Regions from separate parts of the Homo sapiens genome. Here region 2 is linked to region 1. Evidence: fine-mapped expression QTL. A gene starts in region 1. The other region holds a variant in brackets. All regions are shown on one strand. Distances are between the middles of the regions.

Region 1 (8,338 bases):
AGGAGTCACCAGAATACGCTAGGTATTTAAAGCTAAGAAATTAGATGAGGTTCTTTTTAAAATCTTACTTAATAAAAAGTACAGAAATTTTTCTAAGTGCTTTACAAATATTAACTCAACCCTCTTAACAACTCTCTGAGGTAAGAACTATTATTACTCTTATATTCCATATTAAAGATAAGGAAACTGAGACACAGATTATCTAAGCAACTAGGCCAAAAATCACACTACCGGTAAGCAGCAAACCTGGGACTGAATCCAAGCAGTGTGGCCCCAGTCTGAATTCTTAACACTAAGCTAAATTGCTTCCTAATACTCTAAGGGAAAAAAAAAAGTGGAAGGAGAGAAGAGGCTCCGGAACTGAGCCGCAGGGCACTCAACTTTTAGAAGTTGCAAAAAGGGGAAGCAAAAAAATTTAAAAGGAGCTAAGTAGAAAATGAGAAAAAGTTTGGTGTCCTGAAATCCCATGAATAAAATACTGTATATCAAAGAGGAATGCTTAAGAGATCAAAAAAGAAATGGACTAGAAAGTGACCATTGGATTTGGCAAGGTGGAAGTCACTAGAGACTTTGAAATACAAACTTGATGAAATAAGTTATCTTTACGTTTCTTCTAAATTCAGCTCTTGAATTATAATGTCCAAAATGAGATTCATTTATTCCATAAATGTTTACTGAAAGTTCTTCAGCATGCCAAAAACTGGTCTACAGCTAGGGATACGGCAGTGAAAAAATCAAACAAAAATCCCTGTCCTCACAGAGCTCACATTCTAGTAACATCTTTCGGTGTTTCTTCCAAGGGAAAAGCTATCACCAGCATTGTGTCTCTTTATAAAAAATGTTATATTATATAAATCAGTCAGTGAATTTCTGATTCAGCCTCAGATTAAGACTGAAGACAATTAATTTTGAAGATGTGCAAATGTATACGAGTGTTAAGTGATAAATAACTGTATCAAATGAGTTACTTTAATGTTATGACATATTCATTGGTAGATATGGTGAAAGAAAAAATTGTTAAGTGTATTCTATACACTGTATTCTATATGTTATACTATTAAAAAATAATATGAGTCTACTGGACTCTGTGCAAGGCTTATGTACTGGGAATCTCTGAGGGGTCTTCTTAGATAAACCTTTTGTAATATTTCAATACAAGGATTGTGAGAAGAGAATTGGTCCAATACCAAAACCTGAGCAACTTTAAAAAGTAAGCTTTTCTGGAGCAAAACAATGTTGCTACACTGAAGAAGTATAATGTCTGGCAGGCTCAACTGACACATTCTCAACTCAACAAACATTATTAAACACCTCCTATGTAGCAACCTCTCATTAAGGAGTATAAAACTATCTTGAATGCTAAATAATTCGGTAAAGGCAAAAATGCTAAAATAAGTTAGAGGATTTTGTAAGAAGGTGGAAATTAGAGTGGACTAGTGCAGCGGTTCTCAACTGGGAGGTATTTTGTCCTTCCAGGGGGCATTTAGCAATGTCCTGAGACTTCTAAAATCATGAGTGGGGGCTGGGTGTCACCGGCATCTAGTGGATAAAGGCCAGGGATAAGGCTGAACACCCTACATTGCACAGGACAAACTCCTATGACAAAGATATTTACCTGGCCCAAACCGTCAATAACGTTGCTACTGAGAAACCCTTTGCTACAGTAATCAGGAAATGACTCAGGTGTAACAAGTTGGATTCTGAGTTGGCCTTAACACACAAGGATATGTTGAAAGATAAAAGAAAGCATAAGCGTAGGACAAAAGCATAAAGGCAAGAAGGTGCCTGTGTTTGAACTGGGTGGTACAGCTACTAGGAACGGGTTTGACATTAAGAAATTTACCTGAATCCAATGCAAATATGTGTTCACAAAGTCAGTAGAATATAAAGGTGATTGGGTAGTTGCTAGCTAAATTATACAGGACCAAGAAAACTAGACAAAGGTGCTGTAAACAGAAGAAGCAAGTATTAAGAAGCTGTTTTAAGTATTTCCCCTAGAGATTCATGTAGTGAGATGTAAAACTGCTTGAGAACAGCAACTAGGCCTTGCTCATCACTGTATCTCTTATGTCACTGAGCTGCTGTGTCCTGTAGTGTGTGCTAACTGCTTATTAAATTAAATGCAATTTTCCAATTCATTAAGTATAATCGGTGATCTCCAAGGTTCTGTCCACTGCTAAGATTCAGGACACTCATTTAAGGTGGAACAAAAAAGGTAGCATCTAGTAAGTGCCAACCACATAAAGGTACTGTAGCAGGCCCTCTAGACATATTATTTAACTGCAGAATGGAATGATGTGTTTTCCCCTCTTTAAAGACAAGAACACTGGAACTCAAAGAATTTAACTTGCCTATGATTTCACCGTGAGCTGAGAAGTGGCAGAGGTAAGGAGTGAACTTTTTTCTACTCTTATATAAACTTCCAAGTTTCAGTGACATGCTCTAAGGAAGAGTTTAAAAAGAAAAATTCAACATCCACCTTTCATAATTAAAATACACAAAGACAAGTAAATTCATAAGGTTGTCCTTATTCACAGTAATGATTACATTCTGCCATAAGGGATTTGGAAATGGTATTTGGCTTGCTTTCATTCCACACTTGTGTGCCAAGGTAGTTCCTACGTGCGTTCAAATTAAACCAAAATTCTCTCCCCGGAAACTCAAATTCCCATAATTATTATCTTCAAGTCAGAAAAAAATAAAATAAAATAAAATTAAAAACCAAAAGCAAACCTATTGAATTGACATCATCAGTACCTAATACCAGTGATTCAGAAAACAACAAAAATGTAGCATTTCAAACTCTTTCCAGATTCAACAACTTCTTCCACACTTCTTTACACCTTTTAAAGTGCAGAGACCTAGCCTAAGAGAGACATCCCAAAGGCTCAGGTCCTCAATTCGGTTTCAGTCGTTGCCAAGTATTTCATCTTCATCGCTCCTAACATGTTTGAGAGTCTACCCTTAACCAGAGCTCCCTCCTTCAGTTACCGTTACAAAAGATTTTAAAATCCTCTAAGGAACCTTACCTAAAACATTCTGCCAGTTCCAGACGCTCAACATTTATTTGTCTAGGCAAGCACTTTTGGTACAGGGTTTACAATCCTAATCTAGCCAACATACGCCTTAAGCCCTTCGCTGTTCTTCCAGAAGCACAGTCCCTGCACCAGATGCTACACCAGCTGCTCCTCCCAGGCCCTTTACACCAACCCATTCAGCAGTTCTTTGGCAACCTACAGTCCTAGCTCAAGGCCCATTTCACAGGATGAGTCCCATTTCTTTCAAAGAGGATGCGCCAAGCCCTCAACCTCCTCCCAGCTCTGAAGGAGGGAGCCTCAGGAAAGGGGAAGAGCGAGCTCTTCCTTGGCCCTGGCCCGAGGGTCCTGAATGCAGGCAGGGGCTGGCAGAGTGAGCGTGCAGTCCGGTGAGGAATGGGCAGGGAGAGGCAAAAACACTTACCAACATCCTGATCGAAGGGATTGGTGGCAAAAAGAGGCATCTCCGCTGCGTGCCGAGGTGTCCCCGGGGACTCCCTCTCGACAGCACGGGAGTCAGAGCTCGACGTAGGATGGAAGACTCCTCAGGCAAAAAGAGCAACAGAGACCGACTCTACAGGGTCCGCGACAGCTCCTCCTCTCACCCAACCCCACCAACCGCGGCAGCAGCTGCGGCGGCGGCAACAGCAAGGAGCCGAGGAAGCCCCCGCGCGGAGCTTGTCGGGAATCTGGGCGACCTTGGCGCTGCCTGTCTCAAAGCTGCCCCGAGCCTGCCCCATCGGTAAAGGCTGAACAGGGAGTCCCCTCTGCCTGACTCCTCTTTTAATTAGTCACACATAAGAGTGGAATTAGTTCTTGTGTTTTCTGCTTTTCCCTTGGCTAGGAGTCTCCGTAGGACGGGGTCCTTCAGGCGTGCTGAAGCCTACTAACAACCCCAGGAGTGACTGGGAGAGCCAGGAGAAAGAAAGCAGGTTGAGTTCGGGTCGAGCTGTGCGCCTTTTTTCCTCTCGCTCTCTCGGTTATCATAACCTTGTATTCCCTCTGGAAGGAAATGGAAATTCCTTTGGATCATCTTCTAGGTAAACAGTTTAATTAGCTGCGTGAGGTGACAAACTTGCTCGGATGAAGTCATGGGAGCTGAACGAATTGGCCTGAATCCCAAGAGGGGAGTGTTCAGGGCGCGCGTGTCCCTCGGAGAGGCTGAGGTAACGCTGGCTCCTTCCCGGGAGTCCCTGAACGCCCGGCTTTGGAATCTGCAGACAGCTCTTCTAGCAGGGCGTTGGCACCTACTGACTAACCGTGCAATCACTCAGCAGCTGTGATGGTTGGTGACATGTCTTTCACAGCCCAAGATAGCCTCCCTAGACTGAGCAAAAAAAAGAAAACAGAAAAAAACTGGAGCTAAAAGTTGATCAGTGAGTGATTCCTAGCAACCCAAAATGTTGGTTTATTTATTTTACTTATAAGTTTAGTTAACCAATAAAAATTATTCTCTGTGTGATGGAGAAGTTTTAAGGAGCATCTACTAGAGATGTTGCGTCCCACTTGGAACAAACTTAGTAAGCACATCTTGTACGTAAATGGAAATTATCCCGCAAATTACGGCATCTCCAAATGTAGCGTGGAAACTAATATTGACATGTCAACACAGGATTAATACATAGTAATCAAAGAGTGCTTAAAAATTCATTAAAAATGAAGTCCCACCTCTAAAAGTGAAATGTGCAAATTAAAGTAGCAGTTAGATAATGTTTTGTCATTTAGGTAAAAATTACAAAGAATCGGCCGGGCGCGGTGGCTCACGCCTGTAATCCCAGCACTCTGGGAGGCCGAGGCCGGCAGATCACCTGAGGTCAGGAGTTCAAGACCAGCCTGGCCATGGTGAAACCCCGTCTCTACTAAAAGTACAAAAAATTAGCCGGGCGTGGTGGTGCGCGCTTGTAATCCCAGCTATTCGGGAGGCTGAGGCTGGGAATCGTTTGAACCCGGGAGCGAAACTCCGTCTCAAAAAAAGAAAAAAATTGCAAAGAATCAGGGATGTGAGGAGTCAGACACTCACATACTGTTGGATGAAGTGTAAATACTGTATAATCTTCCTAAGGGAAATATTTGGAAGCATGTAAAAAAATTTTTAAAACCTTAGGACCCAGCAATTCCATTTCGGCAAATTAATCCTAAAGACATTCTTTTAAAACATGAACAAAGGTATACATGGCAACATTGTCTAAAGGATCAAAGCATTGCCAGCCATTAAATGTCCCACATTGAGTGATTGGACAAATTGCTTCACCTCTTGGTGTCTCAGTTTCCTCATGTGTAAGAAACAGGAATAATAGGGTTGTGAGGATCAAATGAATTAGTACAAGCAAAACGCTTATTACAGTGCCTGGCATAGAGTAAGCACTAAATAAGTGTAACTGATCACTGTAATTTACACTGGTCAGTTAAATCATAGTACATAAGATGTGAAAACTACACAGCCATTTAAGGTGCATAATACAGATTCATATTTACATAGACATCTGAATACACAAGTTTTCAGAAGGAAGTTACAAACCTTATAAAATTACAAATGCCCACAATTTTAAAAATCTGAAAGGAAATACATGAGAATATTATGACATGATTGTCTCTGAGTGGCAAGATTCTAGACAATGTTTTTGTTCTTTGTGCATTTTATTATTCAAAATATTTTAATGATGAGCGTGTATTCCTTTCAAAAGCAGAAAAAATGTTAAAATACAACAATGTCAAAAATGGTATGTTGGTACCACCAGTTTCTTAATGTTTTGAAGGGCCAATACCAAAAGCGTGCTTGTGTTTCATTATGACAAGTATAGAATTATTCGGAAATATCACGACTGATACGGAAGTCAGAACATTCCCTCTCAAAAATGTGCTTTGATTGCTGGGCTGACAGAATTAGGTGACAACTTGTTTACCTTAAGATCCTGAGCAGTGTCTTGGGCCATTATCATAAGTGCCTGAGCCAGATATTGGTGGCTCAGACTGGGTGTATCAGAGCCAGATATTGATGAAAATGCATTTGTACATGTTCTGTACTCCGGACTGAATTACTCTGTTGCCAGCAATAAGCCAGGGCACAAACTGTTCAAGCCTTGATTATCAATATGTGTGCACTGGGAGTAATACATACTAGTATTGAGAGCAGTATCCGTGCATTCTGACCTAGAATGACTTTAGCTGTGGGGGCAGGGGGGTCTCGATGATTAATGTGCTGTATAAATAATAAACATTTTTTAAATATAAAATTTTTAATATTTAACTTAAAAGACAAACATAAAAAGTGAAATGCTTTGTATTTTGTGGTTAACGTCCCTTATTATCCCTTTAAAATACTGAAATTCTATGAGTTTCACTTTTAGTATTACCACAGTTTTTAAAACGTTTTGAAGACTACATATCAATGGCATATTAAAATGTTTCTGTAATGTTGTATGTTTAATAAATTCTGTGGTTGTTTGTTAAATGTTATATCCCTTTATTCTCAGTTTGATTTTGAAAATTCATCTACATTAAAAACAAAAATACTGGCCAAGTGTGGTGGCTCATGCCTGTAATCCTAGCACTTTGGGAGGCTGAGGCAGGTGGATCATCTGAGGTCAGGAGTTTGAGACCAGCCTGGCCAACATGGCGAAACTCGGTCTCTACCAAAAATACAAAAACTTAGCTGGGCGTGGTGGTGGGCAGCTGTAATCCCAGCTACTCAGGAGGATGAGGCAGGAGAATCGCTTGAACCTGGGGTATGGAGGTTGCAGTGAGCCGAGATCGGGCCACTTCACTCCAGCCTGGGCGACAGAGAGAGACTCTGTCTCAAAAAACAAAAAAAACAAACAAAAAAACAAAACAAAAAACAAAAAACTGGTGTGCAAATAGAGTTACTACACGAAAAAGTCTATAATTTTCAAATTCAGGAAAAAGAATATCCTAGGAAGGTTTTTAACAGTTTAATAATTCCAGCCCAAGTAGGAATGATTACTATTTCTCAGTCTTTCCTCTTCCTCTGCATTGTCACTACTTTAGTTTATACCCTCATCTCTTAGGCAAGTTACTACATTCACCTCCTGCTGTCTTTTCTCCTTTCCTACAGCTGTGGACTGAATTGTATCCTCAAAAATACAAATATTGAAGCCCTTATGCCCAATGTGATGGTATTTGGAGACAGAATCTTTGGGAGATAATTAGAGTTAGATGAGGTCATGAGGCTGCGGCCTTGCTAATGGGATTAGTGCCCTTATAAGAAGGACACTGGATTGCTTGCTGTCTCTCCCTCTCTCTGCCATGTGGGGATGTGGCGAGAAGGCAGCTGTCTGCAGGCCAGTAAGAGAGCCCTCGCCAGAACCCAACCATGCTGGTACCCTGATCTCAGACTTCCAACCTTTAGAACGGCAAGAAAATTAATTTCTGTTGTATAAGTCACTCACTCTGGTATTTTGTTATGGCAGCCTAAGCTAGCTAATACAGCTATTACCTCTAAACCATTCTCTGTCTTACCGCCAGAATGATTTTTCTAATACACAAATCTGATTATATATCATTTCCTTAAAATTCTTATAGGGTTTCTTCAGTTACTCAGTCATTCAGCAAATATGTATTAACTCCCACGTGTGCCAGGTAACATTTTAGATGCTGGAATTATAGGGATAAAAGCTCTGTGAGATTTAGCCTTTTTGGAGTACAGCCTTTGGGGAAGATAGTCATTAAATAAAAAATTAAATTAATTGTATGATTACAAGTGTGCAGAGTAGCCTTACCTTCAGGATTAAACCCCCCTTCTTTAGCATTACCTCCTTAATGAACTGACCTCTCAGTAACTCATCTCTTCGCAGTTTTTTTTCTCCTACCCTCTACGTTAGCCTTTCTGAACTACTAGCATTCGCCCCCATGCTTTTTGTATCTTCAAACAAGCAACTCTTTCTGCTTTTCCTGCTCTTACTCTATTTAGGTCCTAGATCTCCTCTAAACTTCCGCTTAGATTTTGCTTCTTAAAAGCCTTTCCTGACTCAGTACCTGACTAGTAATAGGCACATAATAAATATTTGTTAATCCATTTGTTAATTGACTACCTCTATTATATAGCACTTAATGGTATGGTATGTGTTACAGGTGTCTATTATACCTGAGCACGGTGTCTCACGTCTGTAATCCCAGCACTGTGGGAGGCCGAGGGGGGCAGATCACCTGAGGTCGGGAGTTCAAAACCAGCCTGACCAACATGGAGAAACCCTGTCTCTACTAAAAATACAAAATTAGCTGGGCATGGTGGCGCATACCTGTAATCTCAGCTACTCAGGAGGCTGAGGCAGGAGAATCGCTTGAAC
Region 2 (8,338 bases), 89 kb before region 1:
ACTGGCCACCCACTCAACATTTATAAAGTGAATATTGCAAAAATGATTGCTCCTGGTGTAATAGCAGATAATAAAGATTCCATTATTTTCTGCGAGAAGCTTAAATTTACACACATGAAGGGGATTAGGGTTGACAAAAACCATTTTTAAGGGATGTGATTCAGCATAACTACTTAAATTTCTATACACAATTTTATTAATCTTAGGTATTGAATAGGTAGAACTTTGGACCAAGTATGTCTCTATAGTTCCCCGCAGAAGTCTGACCTAGTTTACTACCATCAGGTTAGAACGCTAAGGTTTATTTAAACAATCTTAAATAAGCAAACTAAAAACCTGGAACCAATTCTTTAACCTACACTTAATGTAGACTTCCACATTCTAATGAGACATTCTTACATGCAAATGCTTAATCTGGAGTCCTCCTGTGGGACACGCACACACACATGGAGAGAGAAAAATACAAAATTCTCCATTAGTGCAAGACCCTGGAGAACAAGGACCTGATTCATTCTCCCCTGTGGCCTCCAGCATTCTCAGGAGGGGCTTCCCACACAGCAGAGACTGAATCAATTGTTCAGTGACAAGATGGGAGACAGCACACCATGGCGGACACAAGCACAAAGGTTGCCTAGGTTTGTACCCCAGCTATGCCACCTGCTGGATGAACTTGGGCAAATAATTAATCTCTCTGTGCCTCAGTCTCCTCACCTATGGCAGGGGGTTATTAGTATCATCCTAGTTTCAATGAGTTATTTGAAAAGCACTTAGACTGGTGCCTGTCCCATAGTAAGGACAAGATAAGAGCATGTTGAATAAATAAAGGGATGGTATTTTTCACATCACCTGGAGCCACTGTAGCTGGAAGGGCCTTTAAGAGAGATATAATTTTTTCATTTTATTTTATTTATTTAAATATTTATTTATTTATTTATTTTTGAGATGGAGTTTCACTCTTGTTGCCCAGGCTGGAGTGCAATGGCATGATCTTGGCTCACTGCAACCTTCGCCGCCCAGGTTCAAGCAATTCTTCTGCCTCAGCCTCCTGAATAGCTGGGATTATAGGCACGCACCACCATGCCTGGCTAATTTCTGTATTTTTTTTTTTTTTTTTTTTTTAGTATAGGCAGGGTTTCACCACATTGGCCAGGCTGGTCTTGAACTCCTGACCTCAGGCGATCCACCGCCTCAGCCTCCCAAAGTGCTGCGATTACAGGCACGAGCCACCATAGCCAGCCAATTTTCTCATTTTAGAGATAAGACTGAGGCCTAGAAAAGGTGAATTCAGTAAGCCGCTGCGAAAGGTGTGATCAGCTCACTCCTAGGAAGATCTGCTTGTTGATACACATATTTTATAAATCAATGGGAATAATTTTATCCGACAAAACAAAAATCCCTGCCCCTGACCCTAGGGAATGAAAAAACATGGGCTTCCACCCCTATTCTGGGAAAGGTTTAGTCATAAGTGGATTAACTTTTGTTCCACAAGAAACGACTTTTTGACTTTATTATTACTATCCAACACAACTGTCAAGACCTATGAAGGCAAGCTGAAAAGTCAGCCGGCCACAGTTCCCGGAATGCTGACAGAAGGCACAGAGGCATGGCTCCAAGACAAAGAACTACGCTACTCACAGCGTTAGCAGGAGCCAGAGTATCATTTCCTGTGCCAGTTCCTCAAGCACAGGGAAGATAAGAAGGGCAAGTGACAAGGGCAAAGGCAGTGAGCTGCAGAACAAAACAGGAGCCCTGAGCTCCATCTCTCAGTCTTTCATCACGGTCAGCCTGCCTGCGCTTTGCTCTAAAGAGAGACACTAACTCCATCTTCCAAGGATGTAAACAAACCTGTCCCTTGCTCCAGAAGGAGACGCTATGTGTATCTCCCAAGGTTGTGTGCCATACAAATATCCTGGAAAAGACGGCCTAGAAAAAGCACTGTCATTTTCTCTGCTTGCAAGATGTGCAAGAACTATGGAGGATTATCTCCCAACCATTTCTACCTTTCGCTTCTACATCATTAAGTTTTTGGCAAATTTTTCCATGCATACGCCGATCCGTCAGCCACTATGATTAATCTGTCTGACAGAGGCTGGGGCCCAATCTGTTCCATGGCACATTTAATTAAAACTACCACCAACACACTGCAAGCAGTAGGATAAGGCCAACTTCAACCATGCCCCAGTGGCCTGGACTCAGCCACTTAACTCTCACAAACAATGAGTCTACCTTCAAAAATCAGATGGACCTGAACTTCCTCTCCCTGAAGCAGACCAACGTAGGATGAAAGTAATCATCACCAAGGACAGTCAGCTAATCAGCACCAAAGCCGCATCAGTCAGCATCTGAGAAACAGCTTATTCACGGGACCAGGATACTTAAGTGACACCAACTAAGATTCACTCTCATCAGCAGATTTCCCTTTGGCTAGATTACCTTTTTATCACCTCCCAACATTTTTTTGTTTTGTTTTGAGATGGAGTCTTGCTCTGTCACTCATGCTGGAGTACAGTGGTGTGATCTTGGCTCACTGCAACGTCCACCTCCTGAGTTCAAGAGATTCTCCTGCCTTAGCCTCCCGAGTAGCTGGGATTACAGGTGTGCACCACTGCACCCGGCTAATTTTTGTATTTTTAGTAGTGTCGGGGTTTCACCATGTTGGCCAAGCTGGTCTTGAACTCCTGGCCTCAGGTGATCCTCCCGCTTCGGCCTGCCAAACTGCTGGGATTCCAGGCGTGAGCCACCATGCCCAGCCTTCCTCCCAACTATTTTAGGTTTGGGAGTACATATGCAGTTTTGTTACATGAGTAAATTGTGTCAGGGGTTTGGTGTACATTATTTCATCACCTGGGTGGTGAGCACAGTATCTAATGGGTAGTTTTTCGGTCCTCACCCTCCTCCCATCCTGCACCGTCCTTTTGCTGGATTTCCATAGTTCTCCATGTGCCCCAACCCTTCCGGGCCACGTGTTTTCTATTGCTGCATAACAAATTACTACACATTTAGTGGCTTAAAACCACCTACACTGATTATCTCACAGTTTCTGTGGGCCAGGAATCTGGACAGGGCTTAGCTGAGTCCTCTTCAAGGCTGCGATCAAAGTGTTGGCCAGGGCTGGGTTCTCCTCTGGAGGCTCGTCTTGGGAAGGGTCTGCTTCCAAGCTCAGCCTGCCGGCAAAAGCATGACGTAATGTCAGCAAGGAGTGATGGCCCATCGCATTTGCCATAGTCTATTGGTTTTCAGCAAGACACATGTCCTGCCCATACTCAAAGAAAGGGAATTAAATAAGGGTCTGAACGTCACAAGGAAGGGCTCATGGGGAC[A/C]CACTCCAGAGTCTGTCTGCCACAGACACATTCTTTAGAATCATGACCAGGTCCTAGAAGCCACAGTCCAGTACTGTCCAGGAGAAACAGAACATCAACCATGTGTGGAATGTTAAATTTTCTAGCACCCATATTAAAAAACAGTGAAAAATACATACACTACCATACTATTCTATGGATGCAATGGTTACCATGAAATATAGTCCCACCAAAACAGCTTATGAAATAGCTTACACTGCTGGTTTTTAAGTTTAAATTAATTCAAATGAAATCAGATTTAAAATTCAGTCCCTCAATTGCACCAGCCCATTCCAAGTGCTCAACAGTCCAAATGAACAGTGAGGTCTTAGATCCACCCTCTCTTTAAAGCAGGAGGCAATGCTTCAAATATCCCCTGGGTCAGGCAAAAGAGTGGTGACAAGATGATCTCCTTGACCTCCTAAACCTCTTCTCAGGCTTCGATCTTGGCCACCGTCCTTGCCAGGCCTGCACAGCCCAGTTTTAGCAAGAATCCTGCTAGGTCAGTTTAGAGAGAAGCCCTCCTGCCTTGAGATCTCATCAAATCCCTCGTCCTCCACCCTGGCTATCTGATCACCCTGGCCTGCTCTTAGCAAGAATCCTCTCTATCCCCGAGGTCTCCTCTTAGTGATTTTCCAACCATGAACTACTCCCCTCCACCCTTGGCTGTAAGTCCCCATCTGTCTTTACTGTATTCCACTGAGCCCAGTTCTGGACGCAAGTCTCTTTTCCCTATTGCAATAGTTTCTGTATAAAATCTCTCAGGCCGGGCGTAGTGGCCCACGCCTGTAATCCCAACACTTTGGGAGGCTGAGGCAGGCGGATCACCTGAGGTTGGGAGTTTGAGGCCAGCCTGTCGAACATGGAGAAACCCCACCTCTAGTAAAAATACAAAATTAGCTGGACGTGGTGGCACATGCCTGTAATCCCAGCTACTCAGGAGGCTCAGGCAGGAGAATCGCTTGAACCCGGGAGGCAGAAGTTGCAGTGAGCCGAGATGGTGCCATTGCACTCCAGCCTGGGCAACAAGAGCGAAACTCCATCTCAAAAAAATAATAATAAATGTCTCTTTACTGCTTCAATAAGAGTCCATCTCTGATTCTCCCCAACAGTTGGGAGGGCTCAGTAGCAAACTGGAGACAGCATGGATAGTTGTGGGAACACAGGCCTCACGTTGTTAGATCTGGGATTTTTCTTTTCTTTTCTTTTCTTTTTTTTGAGACAGTCTCACTCTGTCGCCCAGGCTGGAGTGCAGTGGCGCTATCTCGGCTCACTGCAAGCTCCGCCCCCCGGGTTCATGCCATTCTCCTGCCTCAGCCTCCCGAGTAGCTGTGACTACAGGTGCCAGTCACCATGCCCGGCTAATTTTTTGTAGTTTTAGTAGAGAGGGGGTTTCACCGTGTTTGCCAGGATGGTCTCGATCTCCTGACCTCGTGATCTGCCCACCTAGGCCTCCTAAAGTGCTGGGATTACAGGCGTGAGCCACCGCGCCCGGCCTAGATCTGGGATTTTTCAAGGAGCCAAAAGTCTGTATTTTTGGTGGGAAATCACGTAGACATAAAATATCATCTATTCAAAAAACATTTTTTAACTCTCTGCAGGCCAAATAAAACATGTCAGACTGATCTGGCTAAGCCAGCAGAGTTTAACCTCAGCTTTAAGGTACCCATCTCCTACTTTGGTTCCTTCTCTACTATTTTGTCAATTTGAATCACACAGAGTGATCTTATTTCCTGAAAGTTTTGGGGAGCTACAGCACTGCAGTCTTTAAGAAATGACCACACACAGGGAGAATCCCCCAGGACCAAGGCCTCTCCTGGGCAGTGGGCGTTCCTCTTCCCCAGCCTGCCCCATGCCATCCCACCTATCCTTGCTTCCTATTTCACTCAAGGGACAGTTTGACAGGGAAGCAGGAAAGCAGAAGATCTCTTTTCTCATCAGGATCTTTCCCAACTCATAAATGTCCAGAAGAAAACAGAATATATTTTCCTGATTAGTTATACTCATTCTTTTCTATATTTGCATCTTCCCCCAGTTAAGAATGAAAAGCAAGACAGGGCAAACGTTTACCTAGTTTACCTTGGTGCTTCCTACAGCAGAATTAAGATAAAACATGCCATAAAACTGATGGAATCATAAGGAAATGGAAATCATAATGAAATGAACGTTGACTTTGAAACCCTGGGAGAGCATTACAATGAAAAGATTGTTTAATGAGGCATTTAGAGGCGAGGAAAATGACCACCTTCCTTTCCCCTGTCCCCCTCCCCACCAAGGGCCCTGCTCCAGTAACTGGTTGCTCAGCTGCCTCTAAGGATGGGTGTTGGGCTTCGGATTCCTCAGGTGGATATACAAGGTGTAGCCTCTCAGAAAAAAAAAAAAAAAAAAACAAATTTAAGGATTATCATGATAAACAGGTATCAAATCAGCCTGCCTAGGGCCTCTATCCGTTACAGTTCAGCCTTCAATCCACTGGAAAACCACAAAGAGTTGCTTCAGGGAGAGAACAGGAGGAGCTGAGAAATTGTCTTTAGTCTTTCCATGGATCAGGTAAAGCTGTCAAAGTGGAAAGAAGGCAGGTAGATTTATCTCTGGGACTCCCAAAAAAGGATGACAGCATACTGGCCTAGACGAGGTATTCTGAGGGTAGCGATGAGAAGCCCCACCGCTTCTGGGGAGGTGGAGGAGCCTCAGAACCCACGGATGGCTACCAGGAGATGTGCCCCTGGCAGTCTCCCTTGGACTTGGTGTGCCTTCCTACAAAGCACTCACGGGGTATGAGCCAGACATACCAGTAACACTACGCTACATTCTGGTTATATCATAGATTAAATGGGGTTTGGACCCCAGCCCGGCATCCCAGTCACCAAATTCAGCATTGTTCTAAAATGTTTCCTAGAACTTACTATGTTACAAATGAGCTTGTGGAACACGTAAATGAGGGAAGACTTGTGCAAAAGATCTTCTAACATAGTGTAACAATTAAATTTTAACACTAGAGTGGGCTCATTGCTGTTTCCTTATTGTTCATTTTTCAGTAAGTTTACATGTTGATATCAAAATGAACTTGTAAAAAGTCCTGGATTCAAGTTTTCTGATTTCTAAAGGTACTTAAATATTTAAATAAATGCCTGACATATTTAGTGCTATGAAATGTAAAACTTAAGAAGGCAGTTAGTGTATCTTAAAAATAGTGTAAACACTTAAGCAAATGAAGACCAAACCATCAACAGTTAATAAACAAAAATAAATTAAGGACATAATGGCTGTGACCACTTATCTCAAAAAGTGATGTTTATCCTTAATTTTCTTTTCTTTCCCTGTTTTTTTGGGAGAGGCAGGATTGTAGGGCATATAATTTCTCACAGGCTTTATGTGTTTTGTGTTTTCTTACCGGGTTTACAGGGCATTTAATTTCCCACAGATTTTAAGCATTTTAAGCAAAACACATAAAATAATTATTTGAATCTAAATGTGTTTACATGTTCAGTGGGGATCATTTCTGATCTGGTAAGGGGGAAGAAAGAGTTTTGTACCTTAGAGGTTGTCCACAATTCTTATTCATTTAGAAGTACAAAGAGTATTTTTCTGGGTAGAAATAAATGGTAAATAGCCACTCATTCTCCACCACAAAGTGTCTTTTAAAGTCAATATTGATATCACATTTGTTTGGAAAACACAAACTTGTTCCAGGAAATTAATAATGAATATGAGCAGAACTACAAGGAATATGAGCAGAACGCAAATTTCACAATTTGCTTACGCATGGTCTCATCCAGGAGCAACGCTAGGTGAAATGTGGAAAACCACACCCAGCATCGGAACACACAGAACACGAGTGAGCAGCCTCCGTTCACTGCAAGTACTGAGTCACACTTACCCAGTCCTGGGATTAGAACTCACCCTCTGATTCCAGCTGACTCTCCTTCCACAGCTTCACCTTAATTCATGAGCTGCAACCCTTCCTATGCCCACTTCTACAGGCACACTTCAGGTCTTTTCCAAGGTAAAGTGCCATATTTATTAACCATTTAACATGTGTCAAACTGTGCTGCTCTTATTAGATTCTTATCTTTATTCTTGGGTATGTCACTGTTGAAGTTTTGGGTTGCTGAGCCTCTAACCCAGTTTTCCCCATATATCCTAAGGCCTCTTTATTGTACAATTTTGCCGAGCATTCTGGTTTTTAGAAGGCAACTGTGCATTAACAGCAGGATTCACTGCATTCTATTGTGAGCATCATTTCATCAAAATTATAGCAATTCAAGTCCAACATCCAAGAGGTATCTGCTGGAAACCACCCCTAATGTTCAGAATTCTCTTATTTTAAGCATTCTGTATAGCATTTTACATTTCTCAAATGACAGCTCTTGGAATAAACATCGAGAAACAAATGAATTATAAACAGCATTTGATTAATAAGCCATGAATATTTAGAAATGTCATTTTCAAAAGACATTAAACAGTAATTCAGATCATGCTACTCAGTTTTAATTTAGTGATGTTTACCACTTGGTCAAAAACAAGCACTAGCACTTCAAAGTTTTAATCTCAAAATATTTCCTTGCGACAAAACTACTAAGACATATTACCTAAACACCGCTCCTTTAGCTTTTAATACCACTATCTTCGTTTAAACTTTGAAGAAAATCCCGAGACCATTTTAAATTACTACGTACATAAAACAAACATTTAGCATAAACCAGGCACTTATTCAATGTTAAATTTTCCCCACTGCAAGCATAAACAAAATCATGTTTCAACAAATATGCTCTGACAAATAAAAATCTGAAGGCTTTTTCTTGCCTTTAAAATATACAACTCAGCACAGTTAAATATCTACAAATGTTGGTGAAAAGTTAAAATAAAAATGTAATTTGCTTCCATCATGCTAAAAACCTTAAGAAAATTATTCTTTTTCAAATACAAGAGAGGCATGAAGAAAAGTAGAAATACTCTACTACTTATCTTAATGAAGGAAGCAAAAGCACGGTAATTTA

Alleles and levels. Positions count from the first base shown, and alleles are read on the strand shown. Sizes are in standard deviations (SD) of each study's normalised expression.
In carriers of allele C in region 2, the expression in atrial appendage of the gene that starts at base 3,688 in region 1 tends to be lower than with A alone (moderate effect, 0.42 SD a copy in GTEx).

Evidence for each region.
Region 2: its variant is fine-mapped to the expression of STAM in atrial appendage (GTEx, PIP above 0.99). The same link has a PIP of 0.9 or more in left ventricle.

Annotation. Positions count from the first base shown.
Region 1 is chr10:17,639,501-17,647,838 of GRCh38, reverse strand. It overlaps STAM (signal transducing adaptor molecule), which reads right to left and starts at 3,688. Exons shown (of 14, transcript NM_003473.4): 1 at 3,460-3,688. The coding sequence starts at 3,499. STAM-DT (STAM divergent transcript) reads left to right here and starts at 3,921. Exons shown (of 1, transcript NR_110370.1): 1 at 3,921-6,555. RefSeq lists enhancers at 3,674-3,793, 3,944-4,013, 3,436-4,085, 4,086-4,734.
Region 2 is chr10:17,728,661-17,736,998 of GRCh38, reverse strand. No RefSeq gene overlaps it. Among named protein-coding and RNA genes, the nearest start is that of TMEM236, 19 kb to the left of the region's middle. RefSeq lists a silencer at 2,212-2,412. The variant A/C (reference allele first, on the strand shown) is at 3,321.